Regions from separate parts of the Homo sapiens genome. Here regions 2 and 3 are each linked to region 1. Evidence: fine-mapped expression QTL. A gene starts in region 1. Each other region holds a variant in brackets. All regions are shown on one strand. Distances are from middle to middle. Region 1 holds the start of LYPD8 (LY6/PLAUR domain containing 8). Region 2 holds the start of LOC124904577 (a long non-coding RNA gene). Region 3 holds the start of OR2T2 (olfactory receptor family 2 subfamily T member 2).

Region 1 (8,180 bases):
GTCATGGGTAACTCTCTTAGAGGAACTGCCAAACTCTTTCCACAGTGGCTGCACCATTTTACATTCCTACCAGTAGTGTATGAAGGTTCCAATTTCTCCATATCCTTCCTAATGCTCGCAATTTTCCTTGCTTCCTTCTCTTTCTTTCTTTCTTTCTTTCTCTGTCTCTTTTTCTTTCTTTCTTTTTGATTTTATTTGTGTTAGTGGGCATGAAGTAGTATCTAATTGTGGTAGAAGTGTGTTCTGAGGCTGGACCTCACCTCAGACCATTGCCCTGTGCAGATGCGAATGTCCCTCTGGGCTGTGCAGTTGCCGATATGAGCTCAGAGAACAATGATAGCAGTAGTAGCCATTGTTTTTAGAGCCCTTTATGAAGTGATAGTTTCATCATCATTGTCGGCTTGTGCGACCTCCTTTGACCCTCAGAATAGCTACTCAGGCCGTAGTGCTGTTTTTGCCACTTGAAAGATGGGAAACCCAAGACTCGGGGGGATCATCATCTTACATAAGGCCATGGACTATTGGGGAAGTTTATCTTCCAGGATATGCTCATTTCCTCTGCAAGGTGACTGGGGGGCAGGAATGTTGGGGGCAATAATTCATTATTTTTAGCCTATTCTCACATCTCCAAGCGGGAGGAATGAGCTAGTCAATGAAAGGCTCCCAGAAGCAAACACAGAGAGAAGGCGGGTCAGGGGTGGATGCTCTTGATCCTTTTGCTGAGTCTTTGGCTTAGACTCCTGTTGGATATAATTCCTGCCCCAGCTTCCCTGACCTGACCCTACACACCTCCACATGCTTATTCCAAAATGGGGTAGGCTCCCCTGGAAACTCACCTCCAAGCTTTGCTGGTCATCAAGGGAAGCTTTGGGAAAAGGCCGTTTCCTAAAGTGGTTCCAGATTTACCACCGGATGACTCACTGGGACTCAGCTGAGCTCCAGGTTTGCCTCAGCTCAGCAGGCTGTAGGGACAGCCAACCTTGTCCCCTTCTAAGAAGATGATGGAACTAGGGTGCCTACGGTGTGCCCAGGGCTTCTTAGTTTAAAAGTTGGGCTGCTTGTTGCGACTTAGCTTCTCCTGGGTCTCTGGACTTCTTTGCTAGTCAGGAGGAGTCGGCTTTAGAGAGGTGCTTTTTCATAATTCCCTGTGACTGATTCAGGTCCTTGGACCCCACATTAATGACAGAGAGGTGAACCTCTGGGAGAGGGAGGAGTGGAGTCAAGTCGATGTCTCCAATCCTGCGGGTGGAGGCTGCGTCCCACCTGAGCCATGTTGAAATGGAAAGATTGCTGGCCCAGGCGTCTGAAGGCCTATAGGGAAGGCCTCCCTGGGCCTGTTTCCTTATCTGTCAAGGCAGCTGGGGGTACCCTTGGCGCACTGCCGGGGCTTCAAAAGGATGAACCCAGGACTGCTGTGAGCAGCCGTATAGACTGCGCAGCCTAGTTCAGGGGGCTTCCATTGTCTTCAGTGTCCTTACTGATAAATGGCTCAGTTAAAATCATACGTGCTATTAATAATAATTCCCACATGGTTAGACGTCCTCAGGACATTATTGATAGATAGATGGCCTTGGAAAAACACAGAGGAATGGGGTGATGATTCCAGGAGTAAATAAATCATCAGGAGGCATTTCTTCAGGGCCTGATGATTCCATTTTAAAGACAAAGAGCTCTGGCCCAACAAGTGCGGTTAATAAGTAACTTATGTGATGTGAGGGACAAAGTCTGGATTCAGACTCAGATCTTTGTGGTCGCTTTGGGTCCATTTGCCTGAGTATCTGGTGCCTTCTGAGAGGAATTAACATTGATCAGCCCGATTTTCTCATGCCAGTACTCAGCCTGACACCAGAGCTGTTATCTCAGAGGCAGTGTTCATGAGCTCTTTGGATCCTCCATCGGTGGCTCAGGGAGGCCACATTCCTGAAACCCGCAAGCCCACACACACCCCATTGGATATTACTGTGCCACTTCTCTTGTTGTGCCCTGCCAGGTGACTGACTAATGTGTGCTGGGAAACAATATGGTTCTGTTAGGGAGGAAGCTGCTTTTTTTTTTTTTTAGGAAAATGCTGTGATAAGCAGCCTGAAGGCAGATGGTGAGGAGAGGAGAGAATAAGAGATGGCCAGAGTCTCTGCTTATAAAAATAACTCAGATTTTGTCTTCTCCATGAGACCTACTACAACCTCCTCATTGAAAGTGGAAGCCTGCACCTGCTCACCCCCTAGCATGGTTGATGACTTATCCTACTCTTTGTCTTTTTGCCAGAGCAGTCACCACATTCTGACTTTCCCTGTGATTTGCTTATTTACCACTTTAATTTATGTTGTCTGTAGTCCTCTCTAGACTACACTCCAGGAGGGCAAAGGTCTTTGTCTTTTTGCTCACAAATACCTCCCGGTTTCCTACAGTAGGCCTAAGACAGGGAGGGTGCTCAAAAAATGTTTGTTGAATGAATGCATGAGTTTGGGGAAGGAAGAGAGAGCTGAGACACAGGTAGCGTAGCCATCCCCAAGGGGTATTTTCAAGAGCAGGGAACTGCAAGGTTTAAATGCAGGCTGGGGGATACTGGTATGATGTGTGCCCCTCAACCTCTGCATCCTCGGCTGAGTGGGCTCCTCCCACTCCCCACCGTGTGTGTATAAAGTGTCAGCACAGTGGAAAGATGAGGAGGGAAGATAACTCAAGTCCACACTCAAAACCAGGAGCACCCATGGCACAGTGTGAGGAGACTGGGAGAGTGTGAGGGTTAATATTGAGTGTCAACATGATTGGATTGAAAAGTATTGCAAAGTATTGTTCCTGGATGTGTCTGTGAGGGTGTTGCCAAAGGAGATTAACACTCGAGTCCGTGGACTGGCAGAGGCAGAGCCACCCTCAGTCTGGGTGGGCACCATCTGATCAGCTGCCAGCTCTGCTAGAATATAAAGCAGGCAGAAAAATGTCAAAAGGCTAGACTGGCCTAGCCTCCCAGCCTACATCTGGGTGGACATCATCTAATCAACTGCCAACACAGCTAGGATAAAAGCAGGCAGCAGAACGAGGAAGGACCAGACTGGCTGAGTCTCCCAGTCTCCATCTTTCTCCCATGCTGGATGCTTCCTTCCCTCAAACATCGGACTCCAAGTTCTTCGGCTTTGGGACTCTTGGGCCTACACCAGTGGTTTGCCAGGGGCTCTCAGGCCATCAGCCACAGACTGAAGGCTGCACTTTTGAGGTTTTGGGACTCAGACTGGCTTCCTTGGTCTTCAGGTCACAGACAGCCTATTGTGGGACTTCACCCTGTGATCATGTGAGTCAATACTCCTTAATGAACTCCCCTTCATACATATATAAACTCACCTTCTCTAGAGGACAGAGAACCTGACTAATACAGAGAGGCCTCAGTTGACCTGACCTGGGCTGTTACCAGTAGCTGCTCAGATCACTTGGCCAGAAAGACTCTCTCGATGGCTGCTGTGGGCTCTCACCCAGTGTGCAGAGCACACTGCAGGCAGGGGCTTCACGTCATGGTCCCTCTACCACACTATGAGGCTGCACAGTGAGTTTACACTCATCTTGGTTGGAGGACCCTCAAATCTAACAAGGTTAAGACACTTGCCTGTGGGAAACTGAGGCCCTTTCCTGAGTTGCACAGACCCCACATAGTCTGATTCGGAGCTCTGAGTTCTGACTGTGCCCCGGCTGTGTGCCCATGAGCATATCTCTTATGGCTCTCTTTCTGTGCTTTGGTTTTCTCATCTATAAATGGGCTAATCATGGTGACTGTTAGCAGGTTGTTAGGTGCTTGTCATTAGCAGGTCATGGAATTGACTTAGAAGGCCACAGACAATGCTGGAAGATACCTTACTCCTGTTTACATTTTGCCAAAGGCAGGCCTTGACCAAAGTTGTTCCCAATTCCTAGAGGTCTCAGAGAGGGCACGAGCTGCACAGATGCCAAAGGGTTGGGCAGCCTGTAGCTCTATTGGGCAGGGCACAGTCTGAGAGCCAGAAGCCTTAGCCTGTCTGACCCAGAGGTCCCACCCCAGAAGACAGCTGTGCTTTTTGATTTTACAGCCACCTGCTATATAAGGCCTCTCCCATACCAGCCCTAAGCCTCTACTGGGAACCACCTTCTGTAGGACAGTCACCAGGCCAGATCCAGAAGGTGAGAGGACTGCGAGGCCGGGGCCTGAGCCCTGGGAGAAGCTGAAACCGCAGGAAGGGCATTCAGGACCAGCTCAGGTCCTTCCCCGGCCAAGTCCAGGACATTCTTGCGGCTCTTGCTCCTTTGGCATTGCCCTAGGCAGTCGTATGCTCAGGAGAGGGAAGTCTGGAGTTCAGGGAGGATGTGGGCTGGGGATGTAGTTTTCTTGTTGTTTTGCCATCTGCTACTGTGTGTGTGGTTTGTGTGTAGTGTGTGCGTGTTCTGTGCATCATTCTGTGTGTGACATTCTTCATTCTGTGTGGTTTTGTGTCCTCACAGCCTCTCTAGGCTCCAGCTTTCTCTGTGGAAGATGACAGCAATTATAGCAGGACCCTGCCAGGCTGTCGAAAAGATTCCGCAATAAAACTTTGCCAGTGGGAAGTACCTAGTGAAACGGCCTAAGATGCCACTTCTTCTCATGTCCCAGGTGGGGGCCCTGCCTTGAGCCCCAGCTTCACTGGTCCCTCTTACCCACAGAGGTGTTGAGCACGGCCCTGGGTCCTGCTATGGGGTCACTCCCAGGCTCTGTTTCTCTGCTAGGTGNCCCTGGGTCAAGTCCTGACCTCTCTGGGCCTCCATCAATTCTCCCTGAAAATGAGGCTAGTTTCAGGTCTTCACCATAGGCTGAGGTGATCTGTGCACTTGATGGGCTGCTGGGGTCTCCTTCTCATCTCATCTCATCCTCTCCTTTCCCCTCCTCCATCACACTGTAAGACCTGAGAGGCCCTTTCCCAGAAGGCCATGGCCCTGAAACTCTTTTCCCACTGAGGAGAAAAGCAAGCAGCTGGGGTTCCAGGCCTGGAGGGGTGCACCCGGGCATGTAGGGGTGCACCGGGCCTGGAGGGGTGAGGGGCTGGCGCACGTCTGCTACAAGCTCCAGACCAGATGTGCTTTATTTTCCTCCTTGGATCTCTAAATGGTGGGGTCATTGGCATCATGTATGGGCCTCTTCTCCCAGACCGACTGGTTTCCCTTCCTTTTTACCAATCTCTAATAAGTCAACCAGGGTATCAGGGTAGGGTGTGTGGTGTTTGTGTGTGGTTTGTGTATTGTGTATATGGTTTGTGTGCATGTAATGTTTGTGGCATGTGGTATAAATGGCATGTGGGGTGTGTGTGTGTGAGGGTGTGTGATGTGTATGTGTCTCTGTGTGTGGAGGCATATGGTGCATGTGTGGTGTGTGTGATGTGTGTGTGATATGGTGTGTGTGGGGTTTGTTTGACGTGTGTGAGGTGTGTGGTGTATTGTGTGTGTGTTTGATGTGTGTGACAGGTGATGTGTGGCATGTGATGTGTCGTGTGTGTGGTATGTGGTGTGGTGCGTATGTGGTGTCTGTGATGTGATTTGCATGTGTGTAGTATGTGTGATGTATTTAGCGCATGGTGTGTTGTGTGTGTGATGTGTGTGACTTATGTGTGGGGTGTGTGTTTAATGTGTGTGGTGTGTTGTATGTGGCATTTAATGTGTGTTGTGTGTGTTCGGTGTGTACCTAATGTGTGTGACATGTGATGTGTGGTGTGTGTGAAGTGTGTGTGGTGTGGTGTATGTGTGGTGTGTGGTGTGGTATTTGTGTATGTGGTGTATGTGTGTGGTGTGGGGTGTGCTGTGTGGTGTTTGTGACATGTGATGTGTGGTGTGTGGTGTGTGATGTAGTGTATGTGCAGTGTGTATGTGATGTGTGGAGTGTGTGGTGTGTGTCATGTGATGTGTGTGACATGTGATGTTATGTGTTGTGTGTGTTGTGTGTATGTAGTATGTATGACATGTGATGTGTGGTGTGTGTGTGATGCATGGGGTGTGTGGTGTATGTGTCATGTGATGTGTGTGTGACATGTGATGTTATGTGGTGTGTGTGGTGTATGTGCTGTGTATGACATGTGATGTGTGGTGTGTGTGTGATGTGGTGTGTATGTGTTGTGTGGGGGCTGTGGTGTGTGTGGTGTGATGCGTGTGTGTGTGGGGTGTGTGGTGTGTGTGTGATGTGGTGTGTGTGTTGCGTGGGGTGTGTGGTGTGTGATGTATATGTGTGGTGTGTTGTGTGTGTTGTGTGGGGTGTGTGGTGTGTGTGTTGTGTTGTGTGTGTTGTGTGGGGTGTGTGTTGTGTGTGTGATGTGTTTTGTGTGATGTGGTGTGTTGTGTGGGGTGTGTGATGTGTGTGTTGTGTTGTGTGTTGTGTGATGTGTGTGTGATGTGGTGTGTTGTGTGGGGTGTGTGTTGTGTGTGTTGTGTTGTGTGTGTTGTGTGTGGTGTGTGGTGTGTGTGTGATGTGTATGTGTTGTGTGTGGTGTGTGGTGTGTATGTGATGTGTGTGTTGTGTGGTGTGTGTGGTGTGTGTGATGTGTTGTGTGTTGTGTGGGGTGTGTGGTGTGTGTGGTGTGTGTGTGTTGTGTGGTGTGTGTGTGATGCGGTGTGTGTTGTGTGGGGTGTGTGGTGTGTGTGTGTGGTGTGGTGTGTGTGTTGTGTGGGGTGTGATGTGGTGTGTGTGTGTGATGTGGTGTGTGTGGTGTGTGGGGTGTTTGTGTGTGGGGTGTGTGTGTTGTGTTGTGTGTGTTGTGTGTGGTGTGTGGTGTGTGTGTAGTGTGGTGTGGGGTGTGTGGGGTGTGTGGGGTGTGTGTGTGATGTGTGTGTGGTGTGTGGGGTGTGTGGTGTGTGTATGATGTGGTGTGTTTGTGTGTGTGTTGTGTTGTGTGTGTGTTGTGTGGGGTGTTTGGTGTGTGTGTGATGTGGTGTGTGTGTGATGTGGTGTGTTGGTGTGTGGGGTGTGTGTGATGTGTGTATGTGTTGTGTGGGGTGTGTGGTGTGTGTGTGGTGTGGTGTGTGTGTGTGGGGTGTGGTGTGTGTGATGTGATGTGTGTGTGTTGTGGGGTGTGGTGTGTGTGTGGTGTGTGTTGTGTGGGGTGTGTGGTGTGTGTGGGGTGTGTGGTGTGTGTGATGTGTGTGTGTTCAGTGGGGAGTGTGGTGTGTGTGTGTTGTGGGGTGTGGTGTGTGTGTGGTGTGGTGTGTGTGGTGTGTGTTGTGTGTTGTGTGGGGTGTGTGGTGTGTGTGTGTGATGTGTGTGGGGTGTGTGGGGTGTGTGGTGTGTGTGTGATGTGTGTGTTCATGATGTGGTGTGTTTGTGTTTGTGTGGTGTGGTGTGTGTGTGTTGTGTGGGNTGTTTGGTGTGTGTGGGGGGTGATGTGCATGTGTGTGGTGAGGTGGGAGTAGGGGCTTCCAGATGAAGGCGATTGTGTTTCAGTAAGTAGCAGCTATTGTGGTGCAACTAGGCTTTGGAGCTGGAAGGACCTGGAATAGAGCACTGGCTTTGGCCTTAGGAGCCGAGCGAGCTTGGGTTACTTCGTCGTCCCTCTGTGCTGCAGGTTTCTCACCTGTAGAGTGGGGCTAATAGCCTCTGCCGTACAGTACTGTCCACTGGGACTCTCCGCAATGATGGAAGTGTTCTGTGCCTGCGTTGGCCAATACAGCAGCCAACAGCCACATGTGGCTCCTGAGCATTGGGAATGTAGCCAGTGCTACTGAGAAACAGAATGTTTCATTTTATCTACCCTCGAAGAATCATAAATAACTATGTGTGCCTCACAGCGACCGTGTATAGGGTAAATGAGATAATGATTAAGAAGGGCTCAGGCCAGAGCCACACACCTGCTCTCTCCTGCTTTGATACACAAGCAAGTTGGAATTCTGGAAGTTCTAATTTCGAATTCTAATGAATATAACCAAACCTTAGCAATCCTCAAAGGCCTAACTCAGAGAATCTGCAGGCAGGGAATGCAAGGTGCAGAGACATTGGTGACACGCTATTTGGAAGTGCATGGGGGACTCTGATTTAGTGCTGCAGGTTGAGTGTGTCCAGGCTGAGGACTGTGGGAATAGTGGAAGGGAGTGTGGGCTGGCGGTTGGGGACACAGACGAAACTCCAGTTCTGATACCTCCCAGAAGTAAGACCTTGACTTTGAGTGCATTACCCAATCCTGCTAAGGCTTGATTTTTCTTAGGAT
Region 2 (8,180 bases), 50 kb before region 1:
ATGTGCTGAGCACTCACTGTGCCTTTGGATGGGTGCTGTCCAGGAGTTTGAGATTGCCTTCCCTGACTTGGCAGATGGGTGTCATAATATTTTATTACTAGAAAAGCTGCTATGAAAATGCATAGCATATGTTTTTGGGTGAGTGGGCTTTTTAAATTTTTTAAATTGTATGTATAGGAGGTGAACAACATGGTATTTTGATGCACATAATGAAATAGGTATCAAATTGGCCTATCATTTTGCAGTTACCTCCCCCCTTTTTTGTTGTGAAACCGCCTAAAATCTACTCTCAGCAAATTTTCAGTCTATAATACAGTATTATAGTCCTAATGAAGGGCTTTCTGAGATGACACACAGTGCTGGACTTCCCTACCCAGTCACTGGCAGGCAGGACCTGTGAGGCTCCTGGTACAGAAGAGCCCTAGAAAAGAAGGGCTATGCCATGCACGTGCGTTTCTCCTTGCAAAATCACCTAGAAGATGCGGCAGGCGGGAAGAGAGACCAGGAAGGTTAGAGCCAATGGTACTTCTAAGGAGAAGAAGACAGAAGCCGAAGAGCTCCCTCCCTCCCACCCTCGTTGTAGTAACTTGTACTCATCCAGTGCATTTCACGTACCAGGAACGCCCCTAATTAATCTCTACAACAATGTTATAGGACAGATAAACACTATGATTTCCTTTCCACGGTAAGAAAATAAGGCACAATGGGGGGTACTCAGCCTTGCTGAAGGTAACGGAGGCGGCTCCCACTAGGCACTTGGACTCTAGAGTCCAAACGCTTGAACCACTGGGCTCACAGGAACAGGAGGTGAGGAAGTGGAGGTAGTCATCTCCGAGGAAGTTTTGCTGGGAAGAAGAGATGAGAAGTGGGAATACTGTTTCTTAGCTCCTTCTCCCAGCAAAGAGGGTCGAGAAATTTTGTTTAAGGTGAGGAAGAGATGGTCAAGGTGTGGGGGACATAGGGCCCCATCCCCCATTCCTGTACTGTGTCATGTTACATGTTACATTGGCCTGTTGGTAATGAATTGTTCTGATCTTCATCTTCCTCAAGTGTGGGGCTGGGGCCTCAGTCTACCCAACACCTGACACAGGCTCTCACCAACAGATGCTCAGGAAATGTGCTTTTGCTTCTTGCCCCTTCTCTTAGCCCACAGCTGTATCAGGTGGGTTTATCAGTACAGCAGTTTGGAGGTCAGGACCTGGTGATGCACAATCCCAGGATCACATCTCTATGGGAATTCTCAAATTTCATGACGCTTCAATTTTATCGCCTATAAAATGGGAGCATAGAGGCATGTGTGGCATGCTGCTACATCAGTGGATCTGAGGTGCAGCGATTCCTGTTAGCACCTCTTCACAGCCTCGGAGTGCTTAACTCACGGAGGCTTCATCCCATCTTGCGCTAGGCAAGTGGACTCTATGAAAGGGTTGTGTTTCCCTCCTCATCTGGATATGATTTTTGACAAGCATGACAACCCCACTGCCTTTTTAAAAATTTAATTTTTAATATTTATTTTATTATGAGACAGGGTTTTGCGCTGTTGCTCAGACTGGAGTGCAGTGGTGCAATCATAACTCACTGCGGCGTGGGACTCCTGGGCTCGAGCAATCTTTCTGTCTCAGCTTCCCTAGTAGCTACGACCACAGATGCACACCACCATACCCCGCTAATTTTTAACTTAATTTTTTTTTTCTCTGTAGAGATGTATTGCAGTGTTGCCCAAAATGGTTTTGAACTCTTGGACTTAAGCAGTCCTCCCTCCTTGACCTAAAGTGCTGGGATTACAGGCTTGAACCACTGCTCTTTGCCTTTTTTTTTGTTTGTTTTTGTGACACTCGTTCTAGCCCAGGCTGGAGTGCAGTGATGTGATCTTGGCTCACTGCAACCTCGACCTTCTCGGCTCAAGAGATCCTCCCACCTCAGCCTACCAAGTAGCTGGGACTACAGGTGTGTCCCACCATGCCCAGCTAATTTTTGGATTATTTTGGAGGCGGGGTTTCCCTGTGTTGCCCAGGGTGGTCTTAAACTCCTGGGCTCAAACGATCCCCCTACCTCGGCCTCCCAAATTGCTGGGATTACAGGCATGAGCCACCATGCCTGGTTATGCTTCCAGCCTTTAGACATCTTTTAAAATTGACATATTGTAATTGTACGTATTTGTGGGGTGTGGAATCAACCCATCTGTAGATGCTCCTACTCTGCCTGGCAGGAAGAGCGGAGATGACCTTCTTGGGCTGTCAAGGTCTTGCTGTGTCAGCAGGGGGCAGCAGCTACCAGAAAGTGCGCAGAGCCTGGGCTCTGCATTTCCCTGCGCGCACTGCGTGTTGACCCTCCAAGCCTGCGTGGTCAGCCTCATGGGCACTTTGCAGAAGGGCCTGAAAAACTGCACATAGAAGGGTGGGGGTGTGTATACATCAGAATGGAACCCTATTTGTACTTGTCATGGGCCTCTTGCATTCCCGTGTGTCCTCGGAATCACCTATTGCGTGTGAGAGCTGGCTCAAGTCTGCAGCGCAGCTGGTCTCAGGAGGTAAGATGTTCGATATGTAGATGTACCCTGTTCTCCTCAGAGCTCACCTCCTTCCTTGGCCTCCCTAGTGTCTTTTCCCTCTCCCTTTCCACAGCCTCTTTATAAATTTCTCCACCCACGCCTGCTCACCATTCCTGAGCCCCAGGCTGCAACACATTGCTCATGCCCTGGGATAAGGGAACCAGGAGACCATACACTGGCTGGCAAATGGATATGTGTAGTTTACTAAGAAATGTTCACCAGGATCTTTCAGTGTACAAACACTGTGGTAGGCCTTGTTAGGAACACTATAAACTGTAATGCCATGGGTGGGTCTTCCAGGTAAGGAATGCAGGTGTGCACAGGTGGTGCAGGGCAGTGAAAAATACATAACCAGGCCAGGAGCAATGGCTCACAGCTGTAATCCCAATGCTTTGGAAGGCCAAGGTGGGAGGCTCACTTGAGGACCAAGTTTGAGGCCAGCCTCAGCATCATAGTGAGAACCCGACTCTACAAAAAGTAAAAAAATTAGCAATGCGTGATGGCATGCACCTGTAGTCCTAGCTACTCCTGAGGCTAGTGGGAGGATCTCCTGAGCCCAGGAGTTTGAGGCTGCAGTGAGCTATGATCACACCACTATTTCAGAATGGGTGACAGAGGGACAACCTATTTCTAAAAATAAGTAAATAAATAACTAATGAGGGCTGCAGTCAAGGAAAAATCTGGGAGGTTACAGCTGGGCATTGCTCTCCGAAGCTCTGAACCAGCCCCTTGGTCTCAGACTGGAGAAGTGGTGCCTGGCTCCCAATCCTCACTCTTCCCAAATCTGTCTTGAGCTCCCAGGGCCTGTGTCTCACCCATCTTGGTGTTCTCAGGACCTGGAATGTGGAAATTTTCACCAAACAGCTGTCTACTGACTTACTTCTGCTTGTGCTACCCTTGGCACAAGTTTCCTCCCTTCTCAAACTGTCAAACTGCTGCCTGTGGTTTGAGGACCAGATCATGTGGTCAAAAGTCCACATGAGCTGGGATTCAACCACAGGCACCTCTCTAGCCCAGTCTGAATTAATCCTTATCACTCTCAAGTTCCCCATGGCTCTTTTGACTTACTGAAGAATGGGCCGGTTGTTGTAGACATGTCTCTTGTTGGTCCTAAGTCCTCAGAAGAAGGGGTCAGTATCATCCTTGACTCCATCTCACTCAACACATAACACAATAGACATATGTACAGGGACCATACGTGATGCATAGTCTAAATTGGGACAGCTGAGTGTGAAAGGGGGCAGGTGTGGCCTGGGACTGACTTGGGTGATCTAGGACATATGGTCACCCTCATTCTAGGTGCTCAGTAAACATTAGTTCTTTTGAGAGCTTCGGTGTTAAAAACACTGACCACACTATTCAGAGAGGGTTGCCCTTGGCCTGCCCCTGCCACAAGGGGTTATGTGCACAGGGACAATTCACTCAGCTCCTCTGGGCCTCAGTGTTCCAATCTGCCGGAAGTGTGGACAGACTCAGTAGATAACCTCTAAGGTTATCTAAAGCACTAAAATTATACAGCTGGCAGTGGAGGCTGGGCCATGCGAAGAGTTCTGATGGATGATGTGAAATGGTGCATGTGTTTGCAGACAGGGTTAGGGGTTGGAGCATGAGAAACCTGAGCAAGTCCAGAGTTGGTTAGGACCCAGCCCGGAGGGAGCAGAGGGCTGCTGGATATTTCTGCTTGGGTGTGAGATGATCATCGTCCAGAGGTCGAAGAGCTCAGAGTGCTGGGCAGTAGTTTCTCTT[T/C]CTCCAGGCAGGCAGGTGGCTTTCACTGCACAGTGCAGATACGCTTCTTGATTTATTCAAACATAGGAGGAAGGGAGTGTCAAAATGAGTTTCTTCCCCATTTAGAAAAGAGGAACCTTCTTGGTCTAGGGTAGAGTGGAGCAGCAGAGCTGCCTTCTTCCTCAGCTGCGGCTTCATCTTCCATGCTCCTTCCAGGCCACCCCATCCTGTTTCGTCTCTATGATTTCTGCAATAACATGCAGAAGAGCTGGATCATCTTCACACTGACACAAGGAAATCTCAGTTGTGCCACGGCCTGCTTTTTTCCAGCAGGAATTCTTAAGGGCCTGGGGGCCTGGGGCAGCAGTGAAGGCTGGAGGAGGCTCATGGAGCTGTACAGGTTCGCAGGGGCTGCTGTGGTTTAGGGAAGAAGGAGAGGATGTTGCTTAATGTCACCTGCCTTGTGTGCTAACCTCAGTGTTGCTATGGTTTCAGCCTCCCACTCCACTTGGAGAGAGAGGCCAGGAGCCCACCTGCCTCTGCAGCCCACCTGCCTCTGCAGCCCAGGGTGGGAATGTAACCGTTGCTGCTGTACTCACATCTGACCTTCCTTCAGCTGATCTTCGCCCCTTTTACCAGATCTCCTCTTTCACTTTACAATTTCAGAAGCCTCAGATTACAATCCTCTCCATTCCCTCAAACAGTTGCATCTGGCAATAGTGACCATGGCTGCCCCATTGGAAGGGACTGTTAACAGAAAAGGGCATGAGGCCTTAGGAGGAGGGGAGCTACGTCTTCATAACACTAACAAAAACAAACCCGAGGTTAAATAAAGTGAACCAGGTATTTAGTTCACCTGCCACCTGGGATATACTTTTTAATTTTTTCTGGGTTGGTTAAAAATATATTTAGGGCCGGGCACGGTGGCTCACGCCTGTAATCCCAGCACTTTGGGAGGCTGAGGCGGGCGGATTACCTGAGCTCAGGAGTTGGCAACCAGCCTGGGCAACATGGCGAAACCCCTTCTCCACTAAAATACAAGAAATTAGCCGGGCTTGGTGGCGTCCACCTGTAGCCCCAGCTACTCAGGAGGCTGAGGGAGGAGAATGGCGTGAACCTGGGAGGCGGAGCTTGCAGTGAGCTGAGATCGCGCCACTGCACTCCAGCCTGGGTGACAGAGTGAGACTCCGTCTCAAAAAAAAAAATGTATATACATACATATGTATATATATTTAACGACACTTTCAGAGAGAATGTGACAGAGATAAAAGCTGAATAAGAATGACAGGAAAACTGATCTGGAAGCATAAATGATGAGGATGAGAGAAAACATCTGCAGCTAGACAAACCCAAAAGACTTGGAGAAAGTGACAAAAGTGAAGCAGCAGAGACGAGGAGAGACGTGAAAATACACGCTGGAGGGAGGGACATCAGAGACGAGAAGAGGAAAGCCTCATAGGTGACTGGGACATCAGAGATGAGAAGAGGAAAACCTCGTAGGTGACTGGGACATCAGAGATAAGAAGAGGAAGGCCTTGTAGGTGACCGGGACATCAGAGACAAGAAGAGGAAGGCCTCGTAGGTGACCAGGACATCAGAGACAAGAAGAGGAAAGCCTCGTAGGTGACCGGGACATCAGAGACGAGAAGAGGAAGGCCTCGTAGGTGACCAGGACATCAGAGACGAGAAGAGGAAAGCCTCGTAGGTGACCAGGACATCAGAGATGAGAAGAGGAAAGCCTCGTAGGTGACCGGGACATCAGAGACGAGAAGAGGAAGGCCTCGTAGGTGACTGGGACATCAGAGATGAGAAGAGGAAAGCCTCGTAGGTGACCGGGACATCAGAGACAAGAAGAGGAAAGCCTCGTAGGTGACCGGGACATCAGAGATAAGAAGAGGAAGGCCTCGTAGGTGACCGGGACATCAGAGATGAGAAGAGGAAAGCCTCGTAGGTGACTGGGACATCAGAGACAAGAAGAGGAAAGCATCGTAGGTGACCGGGACATCAGAGATAAGAAGAGGAAAGCCTCGTAGGTGACCGGGACATCAGAGATGAGAAGAGGAAAGCCTCGTAGGTGACCGGGACATCAGAGATGAGAAGAGGAAAGCCTCGTAGGTGACCGGGACATCAGAGATGAGAAGAGGAGAGCCTCGTAGGTGACCGGGACATCAGAGACAAGAAGAGGAAGGCCTCGTAGGTGACCGGGACATCAGAGATGAGAAGAGGAGAGCCTCGTAGGTGACCGGGACATCAGAGACAAGAAGAGGAAGGCCTCGTAGGTGACCGGGACATCAGAGATGAGAAGAGGAGAGCCTCGTAGGTGACCGGGACATCAGAGACAAGAAGAGGAAAGCATCGTAGGTGACCGGGACATCAGAGATGAGAAGAGGAAAGCCTCGTAGGTGACCGGGACATCAGAGATGAGAAGAGGAAAGCCTCGTAGGTGACCGGGACATCAGAGACAAGAAGAGGAATGCCTCGTAGGTGACCGGGCTGGTAGCACAAATGATACTCATACGTGCCAGGACTCTAGCTGAGCCCGAGTTAGATTTACAGCCCTCCTTATCTTGACCTATCTCCAAGTTCCTAGGTGAAGTGGCTGTTCCCAGTGCTGCCTGAATCCTTCAGCTGACTGCCGGCCAGAGGTTTATGGCTCTGATCAGGAAGATCACTGATGAGTCTTGTTTCAGACAGGTCCCACCCTCTGTTGGCTCCAACAGTGTTTGATATCCAACAATAGGAAACCAGATTCTGTGAGTGAACTCAAGCTATAGGCAGGACCCGTGGAAGGCACAGGGGAAAGGAGTTGTCTTCCCAGGAAATCTTGGATTTCCCCCTGGAAGTAGGTATCCTATGTACCAGGTGGGAGAGGACTGAGGAGAATGTGCCTTAGGACATGGCTGAGAGCCTCTCTACAGCTCTGCACCATTAATTCCGTGTGGATTTGTGTACCTGGAGCCCAGGGAAAACTAAAGCCCCTCTAATCAAAATGGTGTTTCTTTCTCGAGGTCCTGCTGGTTGTGAGAGATTTATGCTTCTGTGTGGGATATGTTCTTTCACCTATAAACATCAAAATCCCACAGTGAAATGGGAACAGAAAAATGTTTATTCCCCACCCAACCTTCATCTTAAACATGGTTCAATAGGAAGGTATCACTCAGAGACCCTGGCCCAGGGAGGATCCTTCTATGACTCTAGTTCCTAAAATGTGTTCTCTAGATCAACAATATAAACATCACCAGAAACTTGTTAGACATGCAAATTCTCAGCCCCCTACCTCCACTCCTCTGCCCACAGCAATACTGCATTAGAAATGCTGGGAGTGGACCCCAGCAGCTTTCAACAAACCCCTAGAGTGATTCTAGTGTACCCTGGAGTTTGAGAACCTCATCTTTCCGGCAGGTGGAAGGGATGTGGCAAACAGTGCACAGGGGTCCCAAGACTTGTCCCTTCACTCACCTTTCACTGGCCAAAGCAAGTCACCTGGCCTTGCTCCCCCATTGCCTTCTGCCATGATTGGATGCTTCCTGAGGCCTCCGCAGAAGCAGAAACCACTATGCTTCCTGTATAGCCTGCAGAACTACGAGCCAATTAAAACTCTTTTCTTTATAAATGACCCAGTCTCAGGTATTTCTTTATAGCAATGTGAGAACAGACTCTTGAAATATTTGCACACCCATATTGAAGCAGTATTATTCACAATAGTTAAGAGGTAAAAGCAACCCAAATGTCAATTGACAGATAAATGGACAAACAAAATACGTTATATACAATTGAATATTATTTAACGTTAAAAAGGAAGGAAATTCTGACATATGCTACAACATAGACTATCCTTGAGGACATTTTGCTAAGTGAAACAAGCCAGTCGCAAAAGAACAAATACTGTATGATTACACTTACA
Region 3 (8,180 bases), 310 kb after region 1:
GAGACCAGAACTCAGCGTCGAGAAATAAGGTGCAAATGGGAGTTGTTTCAGTCAGAAAGTTACATGCTGAAATAAGGTACTTATGAAAGATCCACCTGGCAGTTTTAGTCTTGAAAGCAAGATTAATATTAATTGCTACTCATAAGTGTTCATAGCCACAGTGGGCTTTGGCCAGGAACTCCTTTTCTTCTTCTACCTACACAAGCTACTCCTGTACTCCGTCTGCTTTTATGAATGAACGCATTTGGACCTTGCTTCCTACATTAATCAGATTTTATCCCCTTCTCTCCACAGCAACGTAGTATCCAATGATGTGAATTTCTCTTTTCCCTTACCTTATCTCCAGTTCTAATTACATACTGCCTTAGTTACCACCCCCCTTTATCTGCCTATTTATTTAAATGGTAACTGTTTTCATTCATGGAAAAGTAGTCTACTTTCCCTCCCATCCCAACTGACAATTTGGAAATTTTCAGTGTGGAAAATTAGGCATAAGATAGAAGTTTTCTTGGCTTTAAAAAAAAAAAAAAAATCAGCACTATAATGGCATGTAGGTGAACATTTACTGAACACTTACTATGCCAGAAGTTAGTTCAGTTTGAAGAATACAGGTTTTAATGCTACATGCCAACTTACCTAAACTACATTGTCAAGGATATCACCAATGGACAAGAAAGAAAGAAGTACATCTGGTTTCCTGGAGCATTGAGAGTAAAAGGTCTAAATTCCAAGCTGCCAGCAGGAGGGCTGTGATGTGGATGTGCAGGGGAATGCTTCTGGGCAGCAGTGTCAGTTCGTGTGGTGGCAAATAGAAATCAAAGGATCTGGCATATGGCCCATCCAGTCCACCCTGCTAACGCTGTGGAAGAGGAAATGGAGAGTAAGGGAATGGAGGATTACACAGGAGCAGCAGAGGCGAGGTGAGGCGAGGCGAGCCCATCTAGTCCACCCTACTAATACTGTGGAAGAGGAAATGGAGAGTAAGGGCATGGAGGATTACACAGGAACAGCAGTGGTGAGGTGAGGTGAGCTGAAGCAAGGGGCAGACACCTGCAACTATAAACACAATGCACTCATTATTATACCCCTACAGCCTGAGCTTCCAACATGTCCACATCTCCCCCTGGGCTCCAGTTACTCAGCTCAACAGGCTTTTATATGCCATGCTAAGATGGCTTCTAGGAGACCTCTAATAGTTTTATTAAAAAAAAAGATCTTAAGGCACACGTGGATGCCTTATGGGTTCAATAAAAGAGGAAGGAGGTTAAAATGAAAAAAAAAAATCATGATTTCCCTCCAAGCATGAAGTCTTCAGCCACACCTAAATGCATATGAACGGAGCAATTAATCATTTAACTTAAAATGTAAATTAAAATTTTAACAAAATATTCAGAGGGCAATCTATGCTTATCCAATAGTATGCACCCCTGCTACCAATTAATTCTGAAACTTTCTCATTGTGAATACCAAGCACATTCTTCTAACTGTCGGCTCTTACATGCCATTTTCCTTCAGTAAATCTATTCATGTTCTTCTAAACTATTACATTTCCCTTAGCTTCCCACGTTTCATGCTAAATGCCCTTTTCCAGTTGTCTGCTTGCCAGATAGTGAATATATGTTATTTATGCTTAATCTTGAGAAGACCACTGCCTCAGTTATTAGCAGATAAGCTCACAGTAGTAACGTGGCCTTCTAATAGTTACAGAGTAATACCTGAAGAAAACATCCCAGTATCTGGGTGATGTTCTGTTTTTCATGAAGATCTAAGGATCCTACCTCAGAGAAGCTGGGTCCAAGTCTTTCTAAAGCAGTAGTGGAATGTCAGACTTCTTATTAAATACATTGTGTAGGGGTGAGGCTAGGTCAAAAAGTCTTTTCACTAATAGAGTCCCACATCCCCCAGGAAGAATTCCTGGGTTAGCAATTAATCCAAGTTGACTGGGTTTACCATGAACTTTAGAAGCAGCCTGTCCTTTCTTGCAGAGGGTGCATTGTTTTCCCAAGTGAAGGACTGGAATCGTTTCTTGGTATTTCATCATGAAAATGTCTTACTGAATCTTGGCATCTCTCCAGAGAGATTTTAAAGGCAGTGATGTGGGGATAAGAGCCTCGCTCTAAATTGAAAATTAGATTTTAAATTTCTTTAGAAATAGAGGCTATGACAAACTAAAAAAGCTCTTTCTCAAAAGTCACTGGCCTCTTGTTTGGGGAGAAATCTTTAAAGTTATAAATAAGTGTGAACCAAAAAGCATTGGAGCCAAGTCTCAATCAATGTAGATGTTTCTGGTGCCAAGGTTGAGGATGCACCTGGGAAAAAGGAACACAATATGACAGGAGCATCTGAGATTTGTGCTTCTTCCAAAGACGGTTGGGAGACTTCAATATTTAAAAGGGAAACAGTGGGCATTAGAGGAAAAAAAAGAAAAAGGAAGTGTGAATAAATGAAGTAGTTTCCTTCTTTGCAGGCTTTAATCAGTGTTGACTGAATTCGCACTTTAGATGTGACAGGAGAGGGTTTAGAGGAACACTCAACTGGGCGTTCATCTCCTGCTCAGTGAATCTGGATTGTATATAAGATAAGGTACACAGTAGAGGAAGCAGTCAAATATGCATTTGTTTCAGGGGAGTGGAGGGATGACTCCCAGGCCTGTCTTTGTCCACTGCCTGTCAAGATAAGCCATTCATTTACATTGTCAGCATGACAATTCAAGAGAATGGTTTTCGGGTAAAGATCTTTGGGCCAGCAAGGAATTTCCTTGCTAGCAGATTGTGAGGGAGGTCCCTTGGGGAGGTATGTAGCCTTCTACCTGTGTAGCTGTCCATTCCGGAACAGTATGGAATCTGTAGCCATACAGTCGGGAACAGATATGGAATATAGTTTTGCATGACAGAGTTCCCAAGCTTGACTTTTCCCTTTGGCTTAGTGAGTTTGGGTCCCAAGAGATTTTCCTTCTACTTTCTCCTATCTTCTATTTTCACAAAAGTGGCATTTGTCACTTAGGTTAAGTGTTTTTCAGAATTATTTGTCTTACGTGTACTACAGAAGAATATTGACCTCAGTAGGAATAAAGGAGACATAAGAAAAATGATGGAAATAACGCAATTGGTAGAGAAAAAAGTGAGGGTAATACAAGTTATGCATTTTCTAAAGTTTTCACCAGAGCACATTAAGATATTTAAACATTAGGAAAATTGAACTTCCTAACATTTATTTCTCTAATGGGGAAAAGAAGGTGGTCTTATTACTAAAGTTCTGCTTCCCAAACAACATCATTGAATGCTTTTCATGCATTAAGTCAGCTAATGGGCAACATTACTTATGATTGCTAGTCATCACAAATCCATTGGACACATACCTTATACCCTCTGTTGCAGATAAGCAGAAAACCCATACCCTTTTTCAGCCTTTAGAATGTTATTCAATAATTCCTGAATATTTTATATGTCATCCATAAATAAAGTTCTCCAACTAACTATTGGATTGATTGGATACACTCTTCCCTCTGGTGTGATGTGTCTTTCTCCAGAGCCACAAATGGGTTACAACCAATATTGATCCTCTCAACCCTGGATTGGTCTTCAGTGCCCGATTTGGCTACAGCCACAGGGGAGTTGATTTTGCTGTCAACAGCCACATCAGTTTTCCTCAAGGTGCCATATCACTAATTTTTATAGTTATGTCATGAAAGCGTTTGAGAAGTGCTGCTGTATCAGTTTGGAAAATTGTTAATACAAGCCCAACTTAAGGAAAAAACAGACCTGTGAACAGTGTATTGATTGGTATTAGTTTCTAACTCATGTTCATGTGTCACAATACTTTGTCTAGTGTTGAACTTAGTTATCTTATATAATTTAGACTTTTTACAAGAGGTATTTTGTGGTGTCTCAATCTTCCATGTTTCTTATTCACTTTTTCTCTTTTCCTTCCCTTTAACTCTCTTCAGGAAGTAATCCTTTTTATATCATCAGTAGGTATAGACTTGGTTGCTACAAGCCAAGACTGACTCCCACAGTTTGGAGTTTAGATTGTTTTAATTTCAGATAATTCTGCCTGCCCACTCTCACTCCATTCCAAAGTGCCACTTGACATTTTTGGGTGAATCTGTATTTGGCAAAACCTTGCTAGCTCCTATAAGACTTAATTTTTAAGTGTTCTATATTTCTAAAGATATTGGCCCTCTGCTCATGTCTCTGAAAAACAGACTATTAATCCATTTTCACACTGCTATAAAACACCCCAAACTGGGTAATTTATGAAGAGGTTAAGTGGGCTCAGTTCCACATGGCTGGGGAGGCCTCACAGCCAATGGTGGAAGGTGAAGGAGAAGCAAAGGCATGTCT[T/C]ACATGGCAGCAGGCAAGACTCATGTGCAGGGGAACCACCCTTTGTAAAACCATCAGATCTCGTGAGACTTATTCATCATGAGAACAGCATGGGAAAAACCCACCCCCAGGATTCAATTAACTCCCACCAGGCCCCTCCCACTACACATGGGGATTATAGGAGCTACAATTCAAGATGATATTTGGGTGGGGAAACAGCCAAACCATTATCAGAGACACATTCTAATAAGTTCTTAACTGGAGGTTCTGGCAAGAAAAATATGCTGAGATTGCCAAGATCTACAGTAAGAATGAATCTTCTTTGAAATTGTGTAGGAGGAAAAACACATTTGTGGTAATTTTGCTGTCACACCTCAAACTGCAAAACCTACAGCCACAGTGTGTGATAAGTGCTTAGGTAAGAAAGAAAACGTATTACATTTATGGTAGAAGATGAGCAAATATGTTGTGACTGACAGCAGTCAGGTTCTATAGTTCTATACTATGGTTTCAGGCTTCCCCCAAAAGACTTAGAACACAGCCTGAGGATAAGATGGTGACTGCTATATTTGAAATATAATATTTGAGTTGATTCTTTATAATGGTCAATGGACAGACTGTCTAAAGGGGAAAAGTCGAGAGAAGTCAGGGAAGTAGTTGAAGATGACCGTTTTTGCCATGACTGAGCAGAGCCAGAAACAGGCTAGTCCATGATTTTTAGTGGAATACACACCTTGTTAAGAGCTCATGGGTGACTACTAAACCTCAGCTTTATGCCTACCCCAGCCCAAACTGTTCATTGTTCAGAGCCTTCATACCTTTCAAAAAAATGAAATCCTTAAAAATCCCAGGCAGCTTTCCAAATCCCATAAATGCCCCACAGTTGCTGGCATGTGGGTCACTTGTTTCCAGGCAGAGAATATTTAAACTCAAGGGCAATGATAAAGTCTTGTATCCTTCATTTCAAGTCTCTAGCAGCATATGCAATTTGTTTAGAAAGTGGTTACCTTTCCTGAGGACACACACCTCCCAACAACCTTCTGTAGGGCCCCCGTGACATCCTTGTTCCTAAGGCTGTAAATGAGTGGATTGAGCATGGGAGTGAGGATGGTGTAGAAGGCAGATACAGCTTTGTCCTGCTCAGGGGTGTGGTAAGAATGAGGCAGCACGTATGTGTACATGGCAGCCCCATAGAAGAGGCTGACAACCACCATGTGTGAGGAGCAGGTGGCCACAGCCTTTCGCCTCCCCTCTGCCTCGCTCATCCTATAAACAGTAATGAGAATTCTTGTGTAAGAGCCCGAGATCACAGAGAAAGGGATGAGGAGCATCATAATACAGCAGACATACATGGCTGTCTCGTAGGCTGATGTGTCCGTGCAGGAGAGCTTCAGAAGGGCAGGCACCTCGCAGAAGAAGTGGTTGATCTCCCGAGAGGCACAGAAGGGGAACTGCATGGTGACGGGGGTGAGCAAGAAACCATCGATAGACCCTCCCAGCCAGGCTGCCGCCACAATCAACCAGCAGATCTTGCGGCTCATGAGGTCAGGATAGTGCAGAGGGTTGCAGATGGCTACGTAGCGATCACAGGACATGAGTCCTAGGAGGAAGAACTCAGCCCCTGCTAAGGTCAAGTAGAGGAAGTGTTGGGCAGTGCATCCAGCAAAGGAAATGGCTCTCTGGCTCATCACCTGGTCGACCAGCATTTTGGGCACAATGGTGGAAATATACAGGATGTCCCTGAGGGAGAGCTGGCTGAGCAGGAAGTACATGGGGGTGTGGAGGCGGGAGTCTATGTGGATGAGAATGATCTTGACCACGTTGCTGGCTATGGAGGTCACAAAGACCAGGAGAATGAGGGCAAAGAAGCCAGGGGAAACGGGCGTTGCTGAACAAACCCAGAAGGATAAAGTCGGCATACACGGAATAATTGCTCTGCTCCATAGCTCTGTAGGGTACACGAAAGAGATATGATAAAGTTGGAAAGGTATCTGATTTACATAAAACATTATGATGTAGTCATGAAACCAAGGTCAAAATCTTATTTCTTGAAGCTCATAATTTCCCTGAGAGAACTGCCTGAGCAGGATTGTGCTACATCTCATTATACCATCATTGTTCATTTAAGGATTTTCTTGATTTGGTGATTACTATTTAGAGTTCATGATCAAACAATCTTTTTGTTCATGACCATTTATTTCTGTCTTTCGAGTACCACCTTACATTGGTGAGGATGCATATAAGACATAAGAATGGAACCAGCCTGATTCAATAGGATAGGGTGGTGGGGAGGAAAGGAGGATTGTCCACATCCTACACTGCTCTCCTTATACTAGACTCTAGTTCTCACACTTAGAATCCAGTTTGAAGATCACCACGAGTATATATTTGCCTATGGAAGAATAACTGCATTATTTGACCTAATTTACACCATTCTTGACACACTTGTACATTGTAAAATTTGAGTGCTCAACTTACATGTATCAGGTGGAGTATTGCAGAATGAGCCTGTGTTGAATAAAAAGAGCTGAGTTCTGAGAAGTCATCCAAGAATTCATAGGAGGAAAAATCATGGGAGAAAACGTTGAGGGTCAAGTGGTGTTTGCTTTCCTTCTTGCAGCAGCAAACTACCGATTATTAACATACAACTCGTTAAAATGTTAGAATCCCATTTAACTTATGAAAAAATAAACTAGTTTAAGTATTAGAGCTAGTGTATCCCAAAAGAAGGGATCTCTCAAACTTGAAGTTAGATTCTGCATATGTATCCATATCAGTTAAATATTTTACCACAATTTAGGACCACTTATGAGTTATTTGGATAGCTTCTCCCTGCATCATATAGATCTGCACTATCCAGGGTGGTAGCCATGAGGCTTATGAAGCTGTGGAGCCCCTGAAACACGACTGCTCCAAATCAAGATGTGCCATCAGCACAAAGTTAACAATTCAAACACCTGTTAAAAATATATGCAACACGTCTTCTTAAAACTTTATATTATGGTAACTTTTAGATATATTTGGATAATATAGATTAAAATTAGTTTCACCTATTCTTTACATTTTTAATGTGGTTACTAGAAAATTTAGAATTCTCTGTGGCTCCCCTAGGATTTCTACTAGGCAGCACTGGTTAGAGTTATTCCTGGGAATATGACAGCTCCAATTACCTTCATCCAAACAAGTCCTCCAGAATTAAACACCACAAATTAGAATTGAGCCAAAAAATTTAGGTGTGTACCAAATTAGAAAAATGGCTTTACTTGTATATGCATTCACCTGCAAATAGCAGTAAGAACATTAATAACTGATTCGTAAATTTTACATTTCCAAACAACTGTGTAAGATACTAGACCATTCTACAGTTGAAAATGAGGCTTAAGGAAACTTCCCCAAGGAGGAACATTGTTCTTTAAACAGTGACAGTATAATTTGTTCTATGCTGTTTTCCAACAGGACAAAGTAGACATCAATTCATTCCGTAAATATTTCCCGAGAGGCACATTGGGTAAGCCAAAGTTTGATATTCTGAAAGACCCTGAAAGAATGTAAGACATCATCTGTCTTCGAGCCTAGAATTGAGGCACATGAACGTGTGTTGTGTGACCACAGGTGCACTTTCAGAATGGTTTTAAGACCTCAGCAGTTTTGACTTACTTGGTATGTGAACAAAGGACAATAAAAATGATGGAAGCTGCAGCCCACTGGCTGGTAGACAGGAACTTCACACCAGGGCCCCTCAGTACATTCCACCACAACCATGCCACAGTGGATGGATGGAAAACGATGAAAATTCAGATTTTTACTGATGAAACCCACATTATATCCTTATGCATTTTTCAGTTCTCATTCTTGAAA

What was found.
Region 2: its variant is fine-mapped to the expression of LYPD8 in whole blood (TOPMed, PIP above 0.99).
Region 3: its variant is fine-mapped to the expression of LYPD8 in nucleus accumbens (GTEx, PIP above 0.99).

The regions. Positions count from the first base shown.
Region 1 is chr1:248,751,671-248,759,850 of GRCh38, reverse strand. It overlaps LYPD8 (LY6/PLAUR domain containing 8), which reads left to right and starts at 4,092. Exons shown (of 7, transcript NM_001085474.2): 1 at 4,092-4,146; 2 at 4,465-4,612.
Region 2 is chr1:248,801,399-248,809,578 of GRCh38, reverse strand. LOC124904577 (a long non-coding RNA gene) reads left to right here and starts at 2,061. Exons shown (of 2, transcript XR_007067008.1): 1 at 2,061-2,530. RefSeq lists enhancers at 4,117-4,326, 5,735-6,934. The variant T/C (reference allele first, on the strand shown) is at 4,298.
Region 3 is chr1:248,439,268-248,447,447 of GRCh38, reverse strand. It overlaps OR2T2 (olfactory receptor family 2 subfamily T member 2), which reads right to left and starts at 1,811. Exons shown (of 4, transcript NM_001004136.2): 1 at 1,779-1,811; 2 at 637-859. It also overlaps the pseudogene OR2T7. The variant T/C (reference allele first, on the strand shown) is at 4,344.